Homo sapiens: one gene and its partners. The protein of the gene in region 1 purifies or fractionates together with the protein of each later gene. This does not show direct contact. Each region holds a gene or a part of one and is shown in the gene's direction. Other genes may lie near its edges.

The links.
Region 2: the proteins of CPNE9 (region 1) and PTGES2 purify together in Homo sapiens (affinity purification with mass spectrometry; one large-scale study listed by BioGRID and IntAct). This does not show direct contact.
Region 3: the proteins of CPNE9 (region 1) and MAP1S purify together in Homo sapiens (affinity purification with mass spectrometry; one large-scale study listed by BioGRID and IntAct). This does not show direct contact.

What each region holds. Positions count from the first base shown.
Region 1 is NC_000003.12:9,702,157-9,705,978, forward strand, and holds the start of CPNE9 (copine-9), read left to right. Parts: upstream 1-1,676; 5' UTR 1,677-1,840; coding exon 1,841-1,908; intron 1,909-2,016; exon of another isoform or gene 2,017-2,035; coding exon of another isoform or gene 2,036-2,430; coding exon 2,431-2,471; intron 2,472-2,592; coding exon 2,593-2,639; intron 2,640-2,734; coding exon 2,735-2,838; intron 2,839-3,307; coding exon 3,308-3,344; intron 3,345-3,561; coding exon 3,562-3,564; intron 3,565-3,822. UniProt on the Homo sapiens protein: Probable calcium-dependent phospholipid-binding protein that may play a role in calcium-mediated intracellular processes. Plays a role in dendrite formation by melanocytes.
Region 2 is NC_000009.12:128,120,193-128,122,461, reverse strand, and holds the end of PTGES2 (prostaglandin E synthase 2), read left to right. Parts: coding exon 1-100; intron 101-1,188; coding exon 1,189-1,317; 3' UTR 1,318-1,769; downstream 1,770-2,269. UniProt on the Homo sapiens protein: Isomerase that catalyzes the conversion of PGH2 into the more stable prostaglandin E2 (PGE2) (in vitro). The biological function and the GSH-dependent property of PTGES2 is still under debate.
Region 3 is NC_000019.10:17,725,966-17,729,687, forward strand, and holds part of MAP1S (microtubule-associated protein 1S), read left to right. Parts: coding exon 1-2,207; intron 2,208-3,722. UniProt on the Homo sapiens protein: Microtubule-associated protein that mediates aggregation of mitochondria resulting in cell death and genomic destruction (MAGD). Plays a role in anchoring the microtubule organizing center to the centrosomes. Binds to DNA. Plays a role in apoptosis.

The sequences.
Region 1 (3,822 bases):
TCTTGACTGGTGACCACCACCCCTTCTTGTCACTGTCTCCCACCCACCCCATCTTTGCTGGGATTCCCATCAACTCTCAGAACTGTGTGGGGTTTCCCTGGGGCCTTGTGGAAGCCATGACTTCACAAAGACCCTACCTGTCAGTTCTTGTTTCTGGGGAGGAGGGATCACCTGCACTGAGAATGAGGCAGTTTGACACAGATCACAAAATAAAATCAAAGTCTTTTTGAATAGCCACTCTTGTGTCATCATTTGGTTATTGTCTTTGTGGAGCTACTAGGAAGGTTCTCATTGTCCTTCCTTGTGCTGGACAAGGGGTTTTTATGTGGAGGGCAGGTGAAACAGGAAGAGAACTGGCGACAGGTATACCTCTCCACTCATGAGCCATGGTAGTCCCTGCAGTGGGGACAACACTCAAGACTGTTGAGAGTAGTGGTTCTCGGGCCTAAGCAGGTCCTAGTCACCTAGAGAGCCTGATGAGCTGTGCACATTCCCAGGGCTGCCTGAGCTTTAGCCTTAGGGTTGCTAAGGAAGTTGCCTGGGAATTAGGAGCTGGAGGATCTTCATTTTTTTCAGATTTTTTGAGATGGAGTCTCACTGTTACCCAAGCTGGAGTGCAATGGCACAATCTTGGCTCACTGCAACCCCTGCCTCCTGGGTTCAAGCGATCCTCCTGCCTCAGTCTCCTGAGTAGCTACGTGAACGTGCCACCATCCCCAGCTAATTTTTGTATTTAGTAGAGATGGGGTTTCACCATGTTGGCCAGGCCAGTCTCAAACTCCTGAGCTCAAGTGATCTGCCTGCCTTGGCCTCCTAAAGTGCTGGGATTACAGGCATGAGCCACCGTACCTGACCAGGATCTTCATCTTTAACAAGTTCTGTAGGCAGCAGGGTCCTGGTACGGGTGACCTGCATCCCCTACCTTGAGCCCTGCCTATGGAGGAAGGACTGGCTTCTGAAGCTTTGGAGATAGCAATTGGTGTGCATGTGTGGTGGGTGAGAGCCTGGCTGACCACCACCCTCTTCTACAGTGTAACCTACAGTAGATTGCGTCATGAGAGTGTGTCCGCATCTGTAACGCCATGAAAGTCGTGAGGGTTAAAGGCATGGGCAGACAGCTTTGCACGGTGCTCAACAGCCACCATTTACTGTCATCATTGTGAATACCCAGAGGACAAATCATAAATACCAGTGAATGTTTACTGAGCACTTGCTGTGTGCTAAGTGTTTTCCTTGGGTTATCTCAGTAAAATTTTACAGCACCTAAAGTAGCTGCTGTTAAAGGCCTTTCTGACGGCCTTTCACGGTTGAGCCACAGAGATGTTGAGTAACTTGTCCAAGGTCACACAGCTACTAAGAGATGTACTTTTCCTATTCAGAGACCTAGGCAGGCTGGGAGTGGGAAAAGACAGAAACACTAAGGGAGTGGCTCAGTAAGAGGCAACAATTCCAGTGCCCACCAGGTGCCCCAAATGTTTCAGCATCATGGACAACTCTAGGGGGCTTGGGTTTCCACCCCAGAGACTTGCGCAGGGCAGACTCTACCAAGGTGTGGGTTGGAGTTGGGAGTCGGGGTGAGGTTCCCCGCTGGCTCCAGGCTGCTCCAATGGGGCGGGGGCCGCCCGCAGGGCCGGGCGGGGCTGTGCTGCCATCTGGAGCCGCTGCCGCCGGCGGCCACTGTCAGGGCGCGAGCGGCTGGAGCGCACGCAGGGCTGGAGCGAGTGCAGCCGCCGCCGCCGCCGACACCGCGGCACATGGGCCGGCCCCGCCGCTGCCGTCGCCCCTAGCCCCAGCAGCCCTGGTCTCGCAGCCTCCTGCGGCTCTGGTCGCCCGACCAGCCATGTCTCTCGGCGGAGCCTCCGAGCGCAGCGTCCCGGCCACCAAGATTGAAATTACCGTGTCCTGCCGGTGAGCGGGCCGCGCTGGGGAGGGCTTAGGCACTGGCACTGCCCCAGCCCCAGCCAGCCGCGGGGCTCAGCCTGGGCAGGGGCTAGACCCCCGGGGAGAGGCGAAATTGGCTGGAAAATCACAGCTGATGACAGGGCGAGTAGCTGGTGGGATCGAGAAGCGGGGGGTCTTGGGCAGCCCCACCCCGAAAAAAGGGCTCAGCCTGCGGGTTCAGGGGGTGGGTCGCAGATATCCGGTAGGAGCTCGGCCCCAGGAGGACAAAGTTCTGGGGCGAGCCCTCTTTCCTGGGCCCTTGGAGACAGTGTGGGTGCGTTCGCGTCCAGTCCGCAGAGCCATGGTTCCTGGACAGCGATTTCCGGTGCTGTCCAGAGTGCTGACAGAGCGGACCCCGGCTGGGGGTAGCCATGGGGGACAGAGGTTCGATGCGGGCCCCATGCCTCTCCTCAGTGCCCGGCTCAGAGCCGACTCGAGGCGGGCGGACTCCAGGATGATCCACTCTGTCTGTCTGTTGCTTTTCTCTAGGAACCTGCTAGACCTTGATACCTTCTCCAAGTCCGACCCCAGTAGGCGGCTCCAGGACCGGGAGGGGGAACTTGGGGTCTGGGCGCGACTCAGGGGCGGGTGGAGTCGGGGCCAGGGGTGGGAGCCGACCTGACGTCCTTCCCTCCCCGCCCCCACCTGCAGTGGTGGTGCTTTACACGCAGAGCCGGGCCAGCCAGGAGTGGCGGGAGGTGAGTCCCAGAGCCCCCTCCCGGCCCAGGGCGTCGCCCGGGAATTCCCCTGCCCGTCTGCACGTCCCACGCTGACCCTCCACCCCCCTACCCAGTTCGGACGGACCGAGGTGATTGATAACACGCTGAACCCAGACTTCGTGCGCAAATTCGTCCTCGACTATTTCTTTGAGGAAAAGCAAAATCTGCGCTTCGATGTGTGAGGCCCCGCCTGGAATTCTGGCTTGGCCCGCCCCCGACCTGGATCCGCCCGGAATTCTGGCTGGCCCCACCCCCGCCTCGCCTCCGGCCTGGTTCTTCTCGCAGGCCTCCCTCCCATTCTGAATGGCCCCCTCTAGCCTGAGCCCTGCCCTTTTATGAGATGCGGTCCAGTTCCGTCCCCCGCTCTGGCCCCGCCCACAACTCTGCTCCTATCGCAGCTCCACCTCAGGCCCGACCCCTTCCACACAACCCTGCCCCCAGCAGCCCCTGACTTGGCCTCGGCCCAGGCTTGACCGTCTGACTACTCAGCCCACCCTGACTCCTCCCCAAAAGGAGACCAAAGCTGAATTCGGGTCCACGGCCGCCCATCCCTCCACCCAAAATTTTCACCAAGACTCGGTGCCCGACCCCTTTCCACCCTCTCCCCCACCCAGCCCCACCCCACACCGGTTCCACTCTTTTCCCAGGTACAACGTGGACTCCAAAACCAACATCTCCAAACCGGTGAGCAAACGTTTCCTCGAGGGTTGGCGGAGCGCACAGGAGGCACTTAGATGTGTTCAACGACTCTCAGAACTCCTCCCAACCCTCGACCCAGACCCCATCTTCTTCAGGCCCCCAACCCACCCTCCTGGTCCCTCTCCTCCTGCCTGAGTGTCCTGCCTGTGCCCCCTACTCACTGTTCCTCTTCCTTCTTGGCTGCCACTGCTGGGACCTGCAGAAGGTGAGGCTGAATGGGGCTGGGCAGAGGTTGGGGGTGGGGGTGGTATTGTGGAGAACAGGCTTGGACTGATGACCCACTACAAGGCAGAGATTGCTCGCAGACCCCTTCTTTCACACCCCCTCCATTAAAGCCCATGTAGGGCCGTGGCTCTTGCACCACTCATTCGCCTGGGAACTGCCCTGGTCCTGTGCAGGAGCATCACTGGGGCTAGGCTGGGACTCAGCACTCAAGAGCTTCTGGTCTTGCTGACTCCTTGTC
Region 2 (2,269 bases), on another chromosome or scaffold:
CGTGCGCGAGGACCTCTATGAGGCTGCTGACAAGTGGGTGGCTGCTGTGGGCAAGGACCGGCCCTTCATGGGGGGCCAGAAGCCGAATCTCGCTGATTTGGTGAGTGTGGTGGTGGCAGGTGGTGCCTGGACCGAGGGTTCTGTCCTCAGAGTGGGGGAGGTTTGCAAGGGAAAGCCTGGACGGTGCTTGCATCTTGCCAGAGGAACCTGCCTCTCTCTGCCATCACGGACAGAAACTCGCCTCGAAGTGGCTCCAGGAGAGAAACAGATGACCAGGAACCGCCTTGGTTCACATAACTGACAAGTTCAGGGAACGGGTTGGCTTCGGGCCCTGCTGGATCCAGAGGCCCGGGTGGTGTTACCAGAGCCCAAGCTCTACCTGTCGCCATCAACACTGCCCTCCCTGGAGTTGGCTTCAGCCTCAGGCGGGCTGGGTCCGGTGCTCCAGGCTTCTCCCAGAAAACCCCTGGGAGGGCGTCTCACTGGCCTGGCTTCACTGCCCTTTTTCCTTTTGTTTTTTTTTGTTGTTGTTGTTTTTGTTTTTTTTTTGAGACCAAGTCTCACGCTGTCACCCAGGCGGGAGTGCAGCGGTGCAGTCTTGGCTCGCTGCAACCTCCGCCTCCCAGGTTCAAGCAATTCTTCTGCCTCAGCCTCCTGAGTAGCTGGGATTACAGGCCTGTGCCACCATGCCCGGCTAATTTTTGAATTTTTAGTAGAGACAGAGTTTCAGTATGTTGGTCAGGCTGGTCTCGAACTCCTGACCGCAGGTGATCCATCCACTTTGGCCTCCCAAAGTGCTGGGACTACAGGCGTGAGCCAGCGTGCCTGGCCCACTGCTCATTTTTAAAACTGTCCTGCCCCTGGGTGACCTGGGTCTTGAAACTGGGTGGTGGGGTCTCTTCTCCCCCATCTCAGGACCTGAGATGAGGGGAGGGCATTTATCCCAAGGAAACTTGCTGGGGGGCAGGGTCTGTGGCCCAGAAAAGGGGGTACAGATGTGAAGCAGGCGAGACCTGCAGCCACCCCACATGCTTTGTTCAAACCCTCACCTGTGCTGTTGGCCCTTGAGTGGGTCACGAGCTCCAAGGGGGGAGGGGACGGGACCTGGCCACACAGCTGGCAGGGAACGAAGGAGGTCTGGATGCCTGTCAAACCAGCTATGGTGACACGTTTCTGTTCGTGCCCCAGGCGGTGTATGGCGTGCTGCGTGTGATGGAGGGGCTGGATGCGTTCGATGACCTGATGCAGCACACGCACATCCAGCCCTGGTACCTGCGGGTGGAGAGGGCCATCACCGAGGCCTCCCCAGCGCACTGAATGTCCCCGCGCAGAGCAGAGGGAAGGCAGCGGAAGACGCCAGCTGCCAGGGCCTGGGGCCACTGGGCCAGCGCCTGGCGATACTGGTTGGGGGCAGGATCATTCTGCCCCTTGTCCACGCACCCCCACCAGCCCTCTCGCTTCTAACACAGGGCACCTGCTGGGGCTCAGGGATGTTAGGGACGAGTTCCAGCCCTGCCACTGCCCTGGGGCGACCCCTCCCTGTCCCTGCCTCCCTGCTCTGCCGCCCCTCTTCCTGGACCCTCAGTGGCTGTCCCATGGCTACATCCTGTGGGTGGGGGCCCTCGACAGGACAGCAGGACGGTTTGTTTTCAGTGGAATCCCATCCCTGGGTTCCCCTGGTTCCCACTCTTCCCAAGCCTCCCGGGACTGGGACATGTTTGCAATAAAGGAAAGGTTTGTGGCGCCTGTCATGGCAGGCATCTCATGGAGCTCCGTGTGGCTGAGTGCTGCGTGGGGCTGGCGGTCAAGGGAGGCATCAGGCTTGGGCTGTGCCAGCCCTTGTGGTAACTAACCGCTGGCCTGGGGCTTCCCAGGTGTCAGGCACGGTACGGCTCCGCAGGCTTTGTGTGGCATCGTCCCCAGGATACCACTCAGGGCACACAGCTGGGCCGTGGAGCCCAGCAGCCAGAGTGCAGGTCGGGGCACCCTACCCACGGTGGGGCTCTGCAGTGGGGTCACTCATCAAGCCTCAGTTTCTTCGTCTGTCCCCGCCTTGTGGGAGAGTTCAGTGATAGGAGCAGGTGCAGTGCACAGAGCCGGGTCACCTGGTCCAGGGCACCAGGCTATTCAGACCCCTGCTCTACAGACAGAACCAAGCCCTCTCAGGTGGCGGCCCCGGGCTTCAGCTCCAGGCTGGGCCAGGCTTTATGGGAGAAGAGGCTCTGCCTTCCAGGGTGAGTGTGGGTTGTGGGTGGGACCCCCTTTCCTG
Region 3 (3,722 bases), on another chromosome or scaffold:
GCTGAACCCCCCGGCGCAGCTGCCCAACTCTGAGGGCCTGTGCGAATTCCTGGAGTACGTGGCTGAGTCTCTGGAGCCACCGTCCCCCTTCGAGCTGCTGGAGCCCCCGACCTCCGGGGGCTTCCTCAGGCTGGGCCGGCCCTGCTGCTACATCTTCCCTGGAGGCCTCGGGGATGCCGCCTTCTTCGCCGTCAATGGCTTCACTGTGCTGGTCAACGGTGGCTCAAACCCCAAGTCCAGTTTCTGGAAGCTGGTGCGGCACCTGGACCGCGTGGATGCCGTGCTGGTGACCCACCCTGGCGCCGACAGCCTCCCCGGCCTCAACAGCCTGCTGCGGCGCAAACTGGCGGAGCGCTCCGAGGTGGCTGCTGGTGGGGGCTCCTGGGACGACAGGCTGCGCAGGCTCATCTCCCCCAACCTGGGGGTCGTGTTCTTCAACGCCTGCGAGGCCGCGTCGCGGCTGGCGCGCGGCGAGGATGAGGCGGAGCTGGCGCTGAGCCTCCTGGCGCAGCTGGGCATCACGCCTCTGCCACTCAGCCGCGGCCCCGTGCCAGCCAAACCCACCGTGCTCTTCGAGAAGATGGGCGTGGGCCGGCTGGACATGTATGTGCTGCACCCGCCCTCCGCCGGCGCCGAGCGCACGCTGGCCTCTGTGTGCGCCCTGCTGGTGTGGCACCCCGCCGGCCCCGGCGAGAAGGTGGTGCGCGTGCTGTTCCCCGGTTGCACCCCGCCCGCCTGCCTCCTGGACGGCCTGGTCCGCCTGCAGCACTTGAGGTTCCTGCGAGAGCCCGTGGTGACGCCCCAGGACCTGGAGGGGCCGGGGCGAGCCGAGAGCAAAGAGAGCGTGGGCTCCCGGGACAGCTCGAAGAGAGAGGGCCTCCTGGCCACCCACCCTAGACCTGGCCAGGAGCGCCCTGGGGTGGCCCGCAAGGAGCCAGCACGGGCTGAGGCCCCACGCAAGACTGAGAAAGAAGCCAAGACCCCCCGGGAGTTGAAGAAAGACCCCAAACCGAGTGTCTCCCGGACCCAGCCGCGGGAGGTGCGCCGGGCAGCCTCTTCTGTGCCCAACCTCAAGAAGACGAATGCCCAGGCGGCACCCAAGCCCCGCAAAGCGCCCAGCACGTCCCACTCTGGCTTCCCGCCGGTGGCAAATGGACCCCGCAGCCCGCCCAGCCTCCGATGTGGAGAAGCCAGCCCCCCCAGTGCAGCCTGCGGCTCTCCGGCCTCCCAGCTGGTGGCCACGCCCAGCCTGGAGCTGGGGCCGATCCCAGCCGGGGAGGAGAAGGCACTGGAGCTGCCTTTGGCCGCCAGCTCAATCCCAAGGCCACGCACACCCTCCCCTGAGTCCCACCGGAGCCCCGCAGAGGGCAGCGAGCGGCTGTCGCTGAGCCCACTGCGGGGCGGGGAGGCCGGGCCAGACGCCTCACCCACAGTGACCACACCCACGGTGACCACGCCCTCACTACCCGCAGAGGTGGGCTCCCCGCACTCGACCGAGGTGGACGAGTCCCTGTCGGTGTCCTTTGAGCAGGTGCTGCCGCCATCCGCCCCCACCAGTGAGGCTGGGCTGAGCCTCCCGCTGCGTGGCCCCCGGGCGCGGCGCTCGGCTTCCCCACACGATGTGGACCTGTGCCTGGTGTCACCCTGTGAATTTGAGCATCGCAAGGCGGTGCCAATGGCACCGGCACCTGCGTCCCCCGGCAGCTCGAATGACAGCAGTGCCCGGTCACAGGAACGGGCAGGTGGGCTGGGGGCCGAGGAGACGCCACCCACATCGGTCAGCGAGTCCCTGCCCACCCTGTCTGACTCGGATCCCGTGCCCCTGGCCCCCGGTGCGGCAGACTCAGACGAAGACACAGAGGGCTTTGGAGTCCCTCGCCACGACCCTTTGCCTGACCCCCTCAAGGTCCCCCCACCACTGCCTGACCCATCCAGCATCTGCATGGTGGACCCCGAGATGCTGCCCCCCAAGACAGCACGGCAAACGGAGAACGTCAGCCGCACCCGGAAGCCCCTGGCCCGCCCCAACTCACGCGCTGCCGCCCCCAAAGCCACTCCAGTGGCTGCTGCCAAAACCAAGGGGCTTGCTGGTGGGGACCGTGCCAGCCGACCACTCAGTGCCCGGAGTGAGCCCAGTGAGAAGGGAGGCCGGGCACCCCTGTCCAGAAAGTCCTCAACCCCCAAGACTGCCACTCGAGGCCCGTCGGGTGAGTACTGGAGCTGGGGCCCTGGGCTGGGTTAGCAGCTGCTTAGGCTGGAGAGCATAGCTCGTCCCCCTGTTTTTACATTTTCAGTTTTTTTAAAAGAGATGGTCTCACTCTGTCTCTGAGCTGGAGTGCAGTGGTGTGGTCACAGCTCATTGCAGCCTTGAACAATGGGGCTCAAGCCACCCTCCCACCTCAGCCTCTCCAGTAGCTGGGACTACTGGCACCGCCACTACCCCTGCCTAATTTTAAAGTTTTTGGTAGAGATAGGGTCTTACTATGTTGCCTGGGCTGATTTCAAACTCCTGGCCTCAAGCTGTGTGCCCACCTCAGCCTCCCAAAGTGTTGGGATGACTGGCGTGAGCCACGGTGCCCTGCCAGTTCTGTTCTTTTTTTTTTTTTTGAGACAGAATTTCGTTCTTGTTGCCCAGGCAAGAATGCAATGGCACGATCTTGGCTGACTGCAACCTCTGACTCCCGGGTTCAAACAATTCTCCTGTCTCAGCCTCCCGAGTAGGTGGGATTACAGGTGCCTGCCACCACGCCTGGCTAATTTTTGTATTTTTAGTAGAGTTGGGGTTTCACCATGTTGGCCAGGCTGGTCTCGAACTCCGGACCTCAGGTGATCTGCCCACCTTGGCCTCCCAAAGTGCTGGGATTACAGGCATGAGCCACTGCACCCAGCCAAGTCCTCCTGTTCGTAATTACTTCGTGACCTCAGCCGTGCCCACCTCTCCGGGGCTCAGTTTCTCCTGTGAAATGGAAACTGACCTCAGTGTTGAAGCACTTGCCATTCTGAGGTGCCTGGACAGGTGAGCACGTATGCCAACTGTGGGTTTCTAGAAGCCACAATAAGTAAAATGAAACAGTTGAAAATTTAAATAGCGTATTTTATGTAACTGATTGGTTAGGAGGACCCGGCCTATGGTTGCACTCATAGCAGAGCAAAATCAGCAAAGAGAAAAGGCACATAGGGTGAAGTCCAAAGGAAACCAGGCAGAAGCTTCCAGAATCCTCTCCCAGTGGGGCTGCACACCACAGGCTTCATTTCTCCAGTAGCAAGTTGTAACAGTGTGTCCCTCATGGAAGCTCATTAGACACAGCATGCCCAGGTTTCCTATTGGGCCATTACATAGGCATCTTCTGCCTGGCACCCACACTCTAGACTCCCCAAAAAGGAGAAATCAGGTGTGTGGTCCAGTCCAGGCACAGGGAGCCCCTCTCAGACAGGGAATGGTGGGAACCCTCTGCCTAAGATCCAAATTCCCAGAGACCAGCCAAAGGCTCACATTTTAAGCAGGCCTTGCTGAGAGGAGGGTCTCTGGCCTGCTGTGCTGTTCTTTGTTTTTTTTCTGAGACAGAGTCTCACTCTGTCATCCAGGCTGGAGTGCAGTGGCGCAAACATGGCTCACTGCAGCCTCGACCTCCTGGGTTCAAGCAACCCTCCCACCTCAACCTCCCGAACAGGTGGGACCACAGACACGCACCATAACGGCCAGCTAATTTTTTTTTGAGATG